Linked DNA regions of Homo sapiens. The protein of the gene in region 1 interacts with the protein of each later gene in a biochemical or structural test. Each region holds a gene or a part of one and is shown in the gene's direction. Other genes may lie near its edges.

Region 1 (7,037 bases):
TAGCCTGCAGGTAGATAAAGCAATTTTGCAGGACAGAGTAATTAGATTTCCATTCTATACACAGGAGGTAATGTGTGTGGGAAATGTGACTGTAGTTATCATGAAAAAATTACCTCAGTAGTTAATTGCCAAGTTACCAAAAAGTAATGATCGCACAATTACAACATACATATGGCATTTGCAAGCGACCGCTTTTAAAAAGGGTTTCTTCTTGATAATGTGCCCAGCCCCTGAACAGAGAACATCTGGCACTGTGCTGCTTGCCCCTCACCATCCACACTTAAGCCTTAAATTGCCCTTTTGCATTACCTGAAGACGAAAATGGGGTCACCACAGCTGTTTTTATCCATCAATTGCTATTTTATGCTCAGGCTTTAAAAGCCCAGGTTAACATCACAATTGAATAGTTAGTATGGTCGCAGAAATTTTATTTTTCATGGAATAAGCCTCTTTATCACAACAAGTTGGAAGGGGTTACATCGGATTGCTGTTTTCAGCTGGGGTTTAGGAGAGTGTTTTCTTTTGGGGAATACTAAGTAGGGTTCAAGGCCCCTGGGAGGAATGGCCACAGCAGAAGCAAGCCCTGTAGTTACAGGCATTCATTCAGTAGATACACAGGGAGTGGCAAGTGTGTACCAGACACTATTCTAATGGACAGAACACACCCAAGTCTTTTTGCCTTTATGAGTTTATGTTCTAGTGCAGGGGTGTTCAGTCTTTTAGCTTCCCTGGGCTACACTGGAAGAAGACGACTGTCTTAGGCCACACATAAAATATAGTAACACTAACGATAGCTGATGAGCTAAAAAAAAAAAAAATTGCAAAAAAATCTCATAATGTTTTAAGCTTCATGAATTTGTGTTGGGTCGCATTCAAAGCCGTCCTGGGCCACATGTGGGCTGCAGGTTGGATAAGCTTGTTCTAGTGGGTAGAAACACATAATAGATGGAATAAACAATGAATGTATGTAGGTGTTAAGAAAGGAAACAGGGAATAGCTAGGTGTTTAGAATAGGGAAGTCGGGGTCTGGCTCATGAAAAGGATCCCTTGCAGTGGTGGTCTCAGCCACCTGCAGTATAACTAGGCCTTCCTGCTTAGAACTCAAACTTCAGTCCTCACTTTGACTATTTTCTGGTCTACATCCTTGATTTTGTTGTTGTTGTTGTTGTTGAGACCGAGTCTCACTCTCTTGCCCAGGCTGGAGTGCAATGGAGTGATCTTGGCTCACTGCAACCTCTGCCTCCAGGGTTCAAGTGATTCTCCTGCCTCAGCCTCCCGAGTAGCTGGGATTACAGGCGCCTGCCACCACGCCCAGCTAATTTTTGTATTTTTAGTAGAGACGAGGTTTCACCATGTTGGCCAGTCTGGTCTTGAACTCCTGACCTCAGGTGATCTGCCCACCTCGGCCTCCTAAAGTGCTGAGATTACAGGTGTGAGCTACTGCGCCCGGCCCCTTGAAGATTTTTTATGCTTTCCTCCTCTATGCTATTTCTTTTCAACCATTCGTGTACCCTTTTGAAGCTTGTTTATTTTAGGGATCTACTGTGTACCAGCATATATGCCTGCCATTTTATTGAATTCCTTTCCAATCCTTTCAGTAACCCTCTGCAATGGGTATTACTATCCCTGTTTTACAGTCGTAGAAACTCAGTGTTGGTGGGGGTTAAAAACTCATCAGGATTCAAACCCGCATCTGACTCCGAAGCCTCCTCTGCCTTCTCTTCCCCAGTGCTTTTTTCACTCACTAGGTCACCAAAGTGCTTATTCTTAGACACTTGTAAAAGGACATTTTCTGTTGATTATGAACCTCTAACTTTGTTTTAAAAGTATGCCACATCCCAAGTGTTTTATGTATTTATTTATTTTCCTAGAGTAAGCCAGGGCTTTTGTTTTCTTCCCTTTAGATGCTCTGCTTCTGTACTGCCAGTGGATGTGCAGACACTAAACTCATCTGGGCCACCGTTTGGAAAGCTAGTGGTTCAGAGTTCTATAGATTCTAGTGCATTCAAGCACAATGGCACGGTTGAATGTAAGGCTTACAACGATGTGGGCAAGACTTCTGCCTATTTTAACTTTGCATTTAAAGGTAACAACAAAGGTATATTTCTTTTTAATCCAATTTAAGGGGATGTTTAGGCTCTGTCTACCATATCAGTCATGATTTTAAGTTCATTCCAACATTGACCATGTCATTTCTGGTAATACATGCATCACACCATACTGTCATCAAACTCACTAAGTTTCATTTTGTACTAGCTTGTTAAGTATATGCTTTTACCAGAGCAATTTTAACCATGCTACTTTATATATTTTATATGTATGTGTGTCTCTATTAGTTGTATATTTACAATTGTCTCCATTAAAAAGAGCTAGAGAAAGCAAATGGGGGAATATATTTACCTTACACCCAAACAGAATTAGAACAATCTAAAATTTAAATTCAATTAAAAATTTCAGTTATTTAAAATGAATTATTTTAACACTTTGCCAGACACTGTATCCAAAAGTTAACACTGCCTTTATGAAGTCATGTTAGCAAGTTATTTCTTTAAAATATTTAAAATTTGATTCATGTGTGACTAACTCTCTTAACAAGTTAAAAGATCTTTTGGGCAAACTGATGAATTGGTACAAAGTGGGAAGACAAAGAAACTGGGCACTTACTTTTTAGGCCTTCTTGGGGTTTTGTTTGTTTGTTTGTTGTTTTCGTTTTTTGAGTCGGCAAAGACTAGTGCCAAAAAGTGGCGTGTTTTCTCAGGTTTTGAGTAGTGAGGGGAAGAATCTTCCATGTTTTTCAGACAGGGCAACGAAAAGAATACCTTAAAAATGTTTTTTTTTTTTTTGGTTGTGAAAGACATTCATGCTCAGTGTAGAAAATTTGGAAAATACAGGAAAGCTTAAAGAAGAAAATATAAACCGTCCATAAAGGAAGCTTCTTTTTTTTAAAGTTGTACAAGGCAGGAATTTGATTGAAGTATAAAGTGCATTCAGATGTTGCTTTTCATTGAAAAACAGCATAAATTATTCCTTTTCTACAGAAATCTCAACTTCTATTCTGCAGTATTGTGGTTTCAAGTTATATTTTTAAAGATTCATTTGAATAACAAGAGTACAATGTAACCAAGGTGAAGCTCTGAGACTCACATAGCTTTGCATCCTGCCATGGGCTGTGAGTTGGGAGGTGGGGTCAGTTTGGGACTGAGTGGCTGTGGTAGAGATCCCATCCTGCCAAAGTTTGTGATTCCACATTTCTCTTCCATTGTAGAGCAAATCCATCCCCACACCCTGTTCACTCCTTTGCTGATTGGTTTCGTAATCGTAGCTGGCATGATGTGCATTATTGTGATGATTCTGACCTACAAATATTTACAGGTAACCATTTATTTGTTCTCTCTCCAGAGTGCTCTAATGACTGAGACAATAATTATTAAAAGGTGATCTATTTTTCCCTTTCTCCCCACAGAAACCCATGTATGAAGTACAGTGGAAGGTTGTTGAGGAGATAAATGGAAACAATTATGTTTACATAGACCCAACACAACTTCCTTATGATCACAAATGGGAGTTTCCCAGAAACAGGCTGAGTTTTGGTCAGTATGAAACAGGGGCTTTCCATGTCACCTTTTTGGGTACACATAACAGTGACTTTAAGGAACTCCAGTGGCTTCCTTTGTTTTGTTCCACCTGAAACAATGAGTTTTCTGTGAAATTGCGCCCCTTTTGATAGGTTTGCCATAGAGAACATCGTAGGAAAATGTCTCTGGACAACATTGTTTTTAATTCCTTTATTGATTTTGAAACTGCACAAATGGTCCTTCAATTCCACCACCAGCACCATCACCACTTACCTTGTTGTCTTCCTTCCTACAGGGAAAACCCTGGGTGCTGGAGCTTTCGGGAAGGTTGTTGAGGCAACTGCTTATGGCTTAATTAAGTCAGATGCGGCCATGACTGTCGCTGTAAAGATGCTCAAGCGTAAGTTCCTGTATGGTACTGCATGCGCTTGACATCAGTTTGCCAGTTGTGCTTTTTGCTAAAATGCATGTTTCCAATTTTAGCGAGTGCCCATTTGACAGAACGGGAAGCCCTCATGTCTGAACTCAAAGTCCTGAGTTACCTTGGTAATCACATGAATATTGTGAATCTACTTGGAGCCTGCACCATTGGAGGTAAAGCCGTGTCCAAGCTGCCTTTTATTGTCTGTCAGGTTATCAAAACATGACATTTTAATATGATTTTGGCAATGCTAGATTATAAACTGCTTGGAAGATTTTTTTACCCAGACTGTTGTTCTCTCTTGCTAGATTTTGTTTTCCTCATTGTTCTTAAGAATGCAGATTTTAATTTTATCATTATGGGGTAGAACAGCCCAGGACATACCCTAGTTATTGTCGTATTTGTAACATCAACGACATCAGCCTCTTGAATATCTCATCCCGACCAGAAGGCTTCTGTTATCTTGTAAGCTTTATACATTTCTTGATCATATGTAGCCACTGAAAGGGTTAATATTAATTTGCATACTACAATTTAAAACAGGCGCCTAAGCCTACTGGTTCTCAAATATACACCAAATGAGGCAAACATTTCACTTCTCTAAAAATAAGTTTCCAATTTGAAGCCTTAGTTGAAGTTCCCATCAAGGATGTCTGTGATGTTTGCAGAAAGTATTTCAGTTGAAAGAAACAAAGATGTGTAAAATGAGCTGTTTCTGGAGATCCACGATAAAGTTGACAGCCTTATATCATGTCTTCCAATAATCCCCATAAATGTTGCTTCACCACATCATGAATTGTTCATGAGAAAATTTCTTACCCAAGTTAATTAGTTGCCTGTTACTTCTAAACTACAGTTTAAACATTCATAGCACCAAAAAATTTTTCAACTAGTAGCGCTCAGAACACAGGTCATTTTAGGTTTTCACTCACTTTCCAGTCTTGTCCCAGCTGGCTGCTCCTTGTGGCTGATTTTCCCACTATGCCACAGTTTGTGCCTTCATTATTTCCATAATAACGTTACAGAGAGTGTGTGAAGCCCTGCTGTAAACAGAAGTGAACCAGAGGATTCACGTAGGAAGCTTGATAATAGTAGAATCTTTGAAAGCAGTAACTTCTCTCTGTAAAACCAGCAGTCATGCTTGGCTCCAAATACTAATGTCACTTAGAAATTCAGGTTAAAAGAGGCTTGCTTGTTTTATGTTACTCCACATAAGGCTGCTTTTTTGATAAGCAGTGTTAATATATGGGATTGTATTGGGACTAAGTAGTCTGATCCACTGAAGCTGAATATTAATGGCCATGACCACCCTTGGGTATTTTTATGGGAGGCAGAATTAATCTATATATCTCACCTTCTTTCTAACCTTTTCTTATGTGCTTTTAGGGCCCACCCTGGTCATTACAGAATATTGTTGCTATGGTGATCTTTTGAATTTTTTGAGAAGAAAACGTGATTCATTTATTTGTTCAAAGCAGGAAGATCATGCAGAAGCTGCACTTTATAAGAATCTTCTGCATTCAAAGGAGTCTTCCTGGTAAGACTGATTTACATAAATAGTTAGCTGTTGACAGGCAGTTCATGGGGTCATAAGGGTTTGCAATCAAGGCTGATTCTTTAAAAAATGAACTGAGGTACTCTGAGGTATGAAATCAAAATTATTAAATCATTTAAATGTGATTAACAGTTTAGAAAGTTAAATTGTGTTTTTAAAGATTCAAACCTAGATTTTTGCTGATTTTTTAAAAATGTATTTTCAGTTTTCTTCTACACTTTAGTTCCATGCAACTGAATGCATTCTATATCTGTTTCTCTTACGGTTCTGTCCTGCATGTATTTCCATTTATACTATTGAGCTTGGTACTACATGCATGTTTCCAGTGAGATACTGTTTATAGGGAAAATGCTAAAGCCTCTCAAGTTGCCACAGTAAAGTCCCTTTAAAACCTTTAGCAGAATGACAAAGAGCTCTGAACATATCTCCACATGTAGGCTTCTTGCCATCGACCTCTGGATTATTCCTGTATACCTTGCCTCTTGCCCTTTTTATTTCATCATGCTATTAAAAGACATAACTACTCCAGCACATTTTTTAAAAATTCTGGACATTATTCTCATCTCTTTCATCATTGATGCCATTCTGAATTTGAATCATGTATAAAGAGCTTTGAGTTTGACTTACAACCAGAAAAGAATTCTTCTCATATCTTGCCTATTCTTTCTTTGGAAATGCTCTTAAGGGCCACCATTTGAGAAGACTTCCTAGATGTACCCAGTCCAACAGAAGTCATGGTTATTTTGCCCAGTCCCCTATACTGTATATTGCTGCAGTTGTGTGGTAGATTTCTCCTATCCTTTTCATGCACTTTATATCCACTGCATCTTGCAATGGCAAGACATTGCCTCCTGAACTCTTAACACCAGGTCCTCAAGGAGACCTCAGTAAATATTATTGATGGGCAATTACCCCTTAAAGCCATTTTCTGTACCTCTGGCTAAAGTTTAAAACCCCAGGTGAAACTTTTTATTTTTTTTTAATCCTATAAACTTGAGTAGTTTAAAGTGGTAGTAGAAACTGTACAAAACCACTTTTTGTTAGTTTCTCCTGGGCATGTGCTCATTATATGAAGAAATGAGCCATTTTGCTTCTTTCCGAAACCTTGGCCCTATATATATCCTTTAACTTTCTGATATAATGGCCTAAATTGTTCAATCCTGTGTGATGTTCTTTGTGCTTTGGGATCCCATATGGGATTGGAACCACCAGCACACTCTGAAGGAGATTGTTGTCATGGTGTTTCTATGCTAATCAGAAGCAGGAAGTACTAGAAATCTTGAAGAGTCTCCAGCCAAATGTTGCAGATTGAAGAGGTCCAGATGGTTCAGAAAATCATCCAAATTATTGGTGTTTATCTGAACCAACTTGATTTTTTTTTAAACCTTCCTCCATCAGTCACTATATGTTAACGATCTCTGCCTCCTGCATAACACGTCTTGGAAGCTCTTCTTTGTCTTTCTTTCATCTTGTCTCCTGGGGCTCA
Region 2 (7,037 bases), on another chromosome or scaffold:
TCACTGGAAAACAAGGACCCTGATAGCACCTACCTCCTGGGTGACTGAGGATCAGAGGAGGGGGCGCCTATATAGAGCCAGCCCTCCCTCCGCAGTGCTTGATCCACTCAGTGTGGCGCTCAGCCCCCTCGGGGAATTTTGGTGCCTCCTCCCAGGCTCTTGGGGCCCAGAGGAGGTGGTCCCACCCTCCCCTCCCCTCCTTGACACCACCTTCCAGGAGAGAAAGCCCCCCCCTTCCCCCTTCTTGTCCATCCTGTTGCCAGGTCCAGCAGTGTCCCCAGCCTCACATCCTGGGCAGGACACCCCTGGAGAGCAGGGGCGCTTGTTCTCTCAGTTTCTTTCCTGGAGCCAGGCCCTGTCTAGCCCCAGGAGGTGCCCAGTTGCCAGTCATTGTATTTGGTGGAGCATGCACCTCCTCCTTCCTCCCTCTCATGGGTTAGTGGGTTCTGAGGACCAAACTCCCAGCATCCCAGTGGGCAGCAGGTAGGGACCTGCTGCCATGCTGCCCCCAACAGGGAAGTTGTGAGTGAGCCCTGCCTTCTGTCTTGGATAGGCTGACTGCCACCTTGGCACAGGCCTCAGCAGTGCCGGTAGGAGGGGAGGCCTGGAGTGTGGTTTTTCTTCCTCCCATGCCTGACCCACTTTACTGAATCTGTTCACATCTTCCTTGCCAGAATTACAGGTTTTTTTTGTTTGTTTTGTTTTTGTTTTTTTTTTTTTTTTTTTTGCTCAGATGAGGAACTGAGGTCCAAAGAAAGGAAGGGACTAACCTCACCCCATGGGTTCTGATCCAGTCTTGCCCTCAGGCCTCCAGGTTCCCAGAATAGTGTTGTTTACCTGTCCAGCCCCAGGTGGGCTCGACCCACAGGTCAGAGGTCATGAGAAGCTGGATGAGACCACTGGGGATGTCCCTGTTTTCTCAGTATATCAGCCAAGGACCTGAAGAACATGCTGTCCCAGGTCAACTACCGGGTCCCCAACATGCGCTTCCTCCGAGAGCGGCTGACGGTAAGTGCCACCCAGGGCTGTCTGTAGATGGGGGCAGGGGAAGCCAAGAGCCCTTCAGCTGGGGGCCTGACTGCCTGACTGGCACTCCTGCTCTATACCATGCAGGACCTGGAGCAGCGCAGCGGGGACATCACCTACGGGCAGTTTGCTCAGCTGTACCGCAGCCTCATGTACAGCGCCCAGAAGACGGTGCATGAGCCACCTGCCCTCCCTCAACCCCTGCCCCTGCTCTTCCACCCCACACCCCAGCTCTGCCTGCCTCAGCCCTGCTGCCCTGCTTAGGGGCTTTTGGGTGCCATTTCTCCAGTTCTTCTCCTCTTGAGGCCTGCCCCCATCTGCTGCTCTAGCCTGCCTTCTTACTAGCCCATTTCCCACATGGCCTCCCAGGGGTCTTGCCCTGACCAGGTTCTGTTTCCTGCAGATGGACCTCCCCTTCTTGGAAGCCAGTACTCTGAGGTTTGGTTTGGAGTGGGGAGGTGGGGTTTTCCCTGGGCCCCCTTCATCTCTCCACTGGGCGATTCTTGATCCAGGTGGGAGGCAGTGGGAGTAGGGAACCATGCTGGACCATTCTGGGAAGCTGTGCTGGCTGGGAGTTGGGTTCTGCCTTCCGTGGGGCACCTTGTTGTCTGTTGACCATACTAGCTAGCTTACCTTCTCTCCCTGCAGGGCTGGGGAGCGGCCGGAGCTTTGCCGAGTGTCCCTTCCTGAGTTCCAGCAGTTCCTTCTTGACTACCAGGGGGTATGGCTGGGCTGACATTGGCCCAGGCTGGTAGGTTGTGGGGGGCTGGGCTCATCCCTGACTGGAGGCTTCTCTCATCCCCTGCCCTCCCTACCCCATCAGGAGCTGTGGGCTGTTGATCGCCTCCAGGTGCAGGAGTTCATGCTCAGCTTCCTCCGAGACCCCTTACGAGAGATCGAGGAGCCATACTTCTTCCTGGATGAGGTGAGCCCGATGTTTCACCCATTTTTTGTCAAGAGAATGAGTAGGGGTGACCAGGACCCCACCCGGGCTCCAGGAGCTAGACGCTCCTTAGGGATGCCACCTTGTTTCTACCTACTGTGCACCTTGCCCACCCCCAGTTGGGACAGAGCACTCTCTCTCCTACCCCCAACCTACCATCTTGGGTTGGACAGGGCAGGGACTCACTGTCTCTTCCCTTCCACATGTTTCTGGACAGTTTGTCACCTTCCTGTTCTCCAAAGAGAACAGTGTGTGGAACTCGCAGCTGGATGCAGTATGCCCGGACACCATGAACAACCCTCTTTCCCACTACTGGATCTCCTCCTCGCACAACACGTGAGTGTGGCTCCTTCAGGCCCACCCAGCTTCTTCCCCAGGAGGGCCCATCTGACCATACCTACCTGCCTCTCCTTGCCTATCCAGGTACCTGACCGGGGACCAGTTCTCCAGTGAGTCCTCCTTGGAAGCCTATGCTCGCTGCCTGCGGATGGGCTGTCGCTGCATTGAGTGTGCGTGGGGTCCAGGGCTGGGGGAGGGAAGATGGGAGGCCTGCCCGCTTGACCATGGTGATGTTGCTCCCCAGTGGACTGCTGGGACGGCCCGGATGGGATGCCAGTTATTTACCATGGGCACACCCTTACCACCAAGATCAAGTTCTCAGATGTCCTGCACACCATCAAGGAGCATGCCTTTGTGGCCTCAGAGTGAGTCGGAGGCTGGATGACCCAGGGGTTAACTTGGCTCCAGGTCTCTCGTTCTAGAGGGACAGAGGGCAGAAAGACTCCTCAAATGCCCTGTCCCCTCTCCCTCAGCCTTTCATCTTTGTCCTTCCTCTTGGCCTCTCCTCGTCACCTGCTCCCTGCTTGAGCTGTTGCTTCCCAAGTTACACTTTCTGTTTCCTACGTGTTGGGCCCACTCTCTTCTTCATGGGTCCTTTAGACTGTAGAACACATGCTCTTCTCATCTTCAGAAAACATGCCCTGGTTTCTTTAGGCCAGTGTCCTGCCAACTCCTTTGCCCTCACAGCCCAGAAGATTGTCTCTGTTCCCTGTGTCCCATTCCTTCAATTCTGTTTACTGCTTAAACTGTGGTCACTGGTCTCCCTTAGCTCACCAGGGCTCTAACAGCTAACTTTGGAGGCTTCTCCTCTCTCCTGGCCTCTTTGGTGTGAAACATTTTTCTTGCACTGCTGAGCAGCCTCCATAATTGGGCCAGCTCGGGACTGCATCAGTTGCCACCCTTTGGTTTCCACTGCTGCCACAGCTGTAGAACCCCTCTCTGCCCCACCAGTGGCTATGGCCTGCCTCTTTTCTGGGATAGTTTTTACAGACAAGAAGCCCCCAGGCCCTTGGCTTCCAACAGCTCACTGTGAGGGGCTACTTAGACCCAGAGAATTGCAGAATCTGTTTCACTGTGCTTGTCCCCCATCCCGCAGGTACCCAGTCATCCTGTCCATTGAGGACCACTGCAGCATTGCCCAGCAGAGAAACATGGCCCAATACTTCAAGAAGGTGCTGGGGGACACACTCCTCACCAAGCCCGTGGAGATCTCTGCCGACGGGCTCCCCTCACCCAACCAGCTTAAGAGGAAGATCCTCATCAAGGTGGGGTGGCGGGCTTATTGCGGAAGCCCCACACTTCTCAGTGCCTTGCCCAGGCCATGGCTTCAGCTGTTGGGCCTAAACCTGGGTGAGGAGGTGGGGTGAGGACTGGGGTCTGCATTGCCCTGTTCTGGTTGCCCCTACAGCACAAGAAGCTGGCTGAGGGCAGTGCCTACGAGGAGGTGCCTACATCCATGATGTACTCTGAGAACGACATCAGCAACTCTATCAAGAATGGCATCCTCTACCTGGAGGACCCTGTGAACCACGTGAGGACTGGGCCAGGCTGGGGGTGGTAGGCCAGTGGGTGTGAGGACCCTGGCTCACAAGTCCCTCTTTGGTCTGTTCCAGGAATGGTATCCCCACTACTTTGTTCTGACCAGCAGCAAGATCTACTACTCTGAGGAGACCAGCAGTGACCAGGGCAACGAGGATGAGGAGGAGCCCAAGGAGGTGAGGAACCAGCTCAGGTCTGGGGGCTGGGCCAGGTCAGGCCTGGGCCAGGGTCACAGTATCTTTGCTGTTGCCTTCCCCTGACAGGTCAGCAGCAGCACAGAGCTGCACTCCAATGAGAAGTGGTTCCATGGGAAGCTAGGGGCAGGGCGTGACGGGCGTCACATCGCTGAGCGCCTGCTTACTGAGTACTGCATCGAGACCGGAGCCCCTGACGGCTCCTTCCTCGTGCGAGAGAGTGAGACCTTCGTGGGCGACTACACGCTCTCTTTCTGGTAACACTTCCCATGCAGATGCGTATGTTCAGTCAGCGTGTGTACACAGACATCACATCACCCAGAGATAATCAGTTAACATTTGAGCCTTTGATCCAGGACAATAATTAGGCTTTACATGGAACATAATTTCACCTACATACACACACACACTCTCTGTCTCACCCCCCCCCCATACCCCTCCCTTTTCGGTTCATTTGAAGCCCACACCTTTGGTTCATGTGACTGCCCACACCTGAGCTCCTCAGGAGATTGGCCTCCCTCCTTGAGGCTCCCTCCTTGAGTTCCACCCTCATTTGGGGTGGAACTTGGTCTTTGGGGCCCTGGCCTGTTTTCCCCAGCCTCCCTCACTCTGTGTCTTCCACAGGCGGAACGGGAAAGTCCAGCACTGCCGTATCCACTCCCGGCAAGATGCTGGGACCCCCAAGTTCTTCTTGACAGACAACCTCGTCTTTGACTCCCTCTATGACCTCATCACGCACTACCAGCAGGTGCCCCTGCGCTGTAATGAGTTTGAGATGCGACTTTCAGAGCCTGTCCCACAGACCAACGCCCACGAGAGCAAAGAGTGAGGGAAGGGCCTGGGGGCGGACAAGGCAGGGCAGGGCCATGGGTGGTGCTGGCCGGGCCTGACTCTGCCTGTTCTCAGGTGGTACCACGCGAGCCTGACCAGAGCACAGGCTGAGCACATGCTAATGCGCGTCCCTCGTGATGGGGCCTTCCTGGTGCGGAAGCGGAATGAACCCAACTCATATGCCATCTCTTTCCGGTGAGGGGTGTGGCACTGGGTTGTGGGGCCTTGCTTGGGTCTGAGCTGCCCTGACCCTGTGTGACTGTTTTGTCCTTGTGAAGGGCTGAGGGCAAGATCAAGCATTGCCGTGTCCAGCAAGAGGGCCAGACAGTGATGCTAGGGAACTCGGAGTTCGACAGCCTTGTTGACCTCATCAGCTACTATGAGAAACACCCGCTATACCGCAAGATGAAGCTGCGCTATCCCATCAACGAGGAGGCACTGGAGAAGATTGGCACAGCTGTGAGGGGGCTGTGGTAGACGGGGCATGGCAGGGGAGGCAGGAGAGACCCAGAATCTTACCAGTCTCTGGATGTGTGTAACAGCAAGACCTGGTGTGTTGTAGAAGTTCGTGGGAGGGCCCCTGACTCCAGCTGGGAGCCACAGTGTGGGTACCAGGAGGGTGTCTGCAGGAGGGGACATCTGAGCAGCATCTTTAAGGATGGGGACAGGCACATAAGCAGAGGGTTCCTCATGAGTCAAGATGTGGAGTGAGGAGGTTCTGGGGCTCACACTGGGAGAGGTGCACACAGTGGAAACTCATCCACCTGGGCTTGGCCTGGACTCTGTCCTAGGGCAGATGAGATGAGGCTACCCAAGAGTGGTTGTGGAGCCTCCGCCTGGTGGATGGTATGGAGGGCAGAGCCACAGGAGGTGAGACCAGTGAGGGAAAAAGTCAGGACCCATGGCAGCACAGCTGGTGATAAGGGCCCTGGACAGAAGGAAGGGGTCTAGGACCAGAAGATCAGTTGAGAGACTGCTGTCGTCAGTAGACAGGGCTGGCTGGGGAGAGAGAGGCCTGTTGTCCACTGGCACCTGGGACTCAAGTGATGGAGAGGAGCGGCAGGAGGAATGTGGGGAGTGGGAAGGCTTTTCCTGACTTTGGGCTCAGCAGTGAACCAACAAGCCACTGAACTAAAGCACTGAATATGGGTAGTCTGTGAAGGGCCCACCTGCACATAGCTCAGAAATACTTGGGAGTTTGGGCATTTAGGACCTGAGAGATTTTAGAATCCTGGGCTGGGCCTTACATGTAAGAATGTGAAGAAAGGAAAGGGAACAGTGAGGCCGGGCCTGAGGCCTCTGAAGCCGTCTCTACTGAGGTCGAAGGATCCCTGTGGATCAGGTGCAAGTTTGCTGCACTGGGGGAAAGGGAAGCTGCTCCAGAAACCAGTAGCTGCTTTCTACCTCTGGGCTCTGGGGCATTAACATATCCCATTGTGTCCTGTTTCCAGGAGCCTGACTACGGGGCCCTGTATGAGGGACGCAACCCTGGCTTCTATGTAGAGGCAAACCCTATGCCAACTTTCAAGGTACAGCTCAGGCCTCTGGGCATAGGAAGCTGGGGAGGGTCCCCAGCTGCTTGGGGCTTCATTTCTGTGTTCTGGGCCATCTGTGGTCTTTGTGGAGAAGTGGTGGTTGTGGTTTTCCGAGGCCCAAGAGGTTGTGAGAGATGTGTGGTTGGTGAGCGACCGCAGGTCTCCCAGGGCCGACCCACTCCCTAGCCCCTACCCCTTAAGTCAGCAGTGACCCTTTAAACTGCTCCTGTGGGTGACCCCTGTTTCCTTCCTGGGCAGCAGCGGGGTAGGAGCTGGGAGGCACACTGGCCACTCATTCCCCGGCCTCATGGAGCCCTGTTACACAGGTTCTTTTTTGTTTTGCCTTTTTCTCTAAAAAGGCCTGGGCCCTATTTCTCACCCCCTCCCCTCCACAGCCAGGGGACCTGGAAGGAAGTTTTTCTTTCCACTTCACAGATGAGTGGTAGGGTCCCATCCAGGCCCCATATGCTTCCAGGTCCCGGGGAGGCACTCAGGGCCACTGCAGACCCTGCCTTCTTGGCCTGCCAGCCCTGACTCCTGGGAGCGGATTCAAGGTTCTCCCTGTGGCCCAGGGTGGGGCTTAAGGTTCCACCTGGGTCCCGAGGTATTTCACTGGCAGAGGCCCTGCCT

What was found. Proteins that work in one complex are often made in the same cells at the same time.
Region 2: the proteins of KIT (region 1) and PLCG1 form a complex in vitro, tested with the Homo sapiens proteins (3 studies listed by BioGRID and IntAct, with this or other methods).

Annotation. Positions count from the first base shown.
Region 1 is NC_000004.12:54,723,953-54,730,989, forward strand, and holds part of KIT (mast/stem cell growth factor receptor Kit isoform 1 precursor), read left to right. Parts: intron 1-1,904; coding exon 1,905-2,098; intron 2,099-3,265; coding exon 3,266-3,372; intron 3,373-3,463; coding exon 3,464-3,590; intron 3,591-3,870; coding exon 3,871-3,975; intron 3,976-4,058; coding exon 4,059-4,169; intron 4,170-5,382; coding exon 5,383-5,533; intron 5,534-7,037. UniProt on the Homo sapiens protein: Tyrosine-protein kinase that acts as a cell-surface receptor for the cytokine KITLG/SCF and plays an essential role in the regulation of cell survival and proliferation, hematopoiesis, stem cell maintenance, gametogenesis, mast cell development, migration and function, and in melanogenesis.
Region 2 is NC_000020.11:41,161,529-41,168,565, forward strand, and holds part of PLCG1 (1-phosphatidylinositol 4,5-bisphosphate phosphodiesterase gamma-1), read left to right. Parts: intron 1-923; coding exon 924-1,008; intron 1,009-1,113; coding exon 1,114-1,197; intron 1,198-1,429; coding exon 1,430-1,464; intron 1,465-1,674; coding exon 1,675-1,747; intron 1,748-1,849; coding exon 1,850-1,951; intron 1,952-2,186; coding exon 2,187-2,305; intron 2,306-2,392; coding exon 2,393-2,478; intron 2,479-2,552; coding exon 2,553-2,673; intron 2,674-3,404; coding exon 3,405-3,573; intron 3,574-3,716; coding exon 3,717-3,839; intron 3,840-3,921; coding exon 3,922-4,023; intron 4,024-4,110; coding exon 4,111-4,298; intron 4,299-4,665; coding exon 4,666-4,866; intron 4,867-4,947; coding exon 4,948-5,067; intron 5,068-5,150; coding exon 5,151-5,331; intron 5,332-6,323; coding exon 6,324-6,401; intron 6,402-7,037. UniProt on the Homo sapiens protein: Mediates the production of the second messenger molecules diacylglycerol (DAG) and inositol 1,4,5-trisphosphate (IP3). Plays an important role in the regulation of intracellular signaling cascades.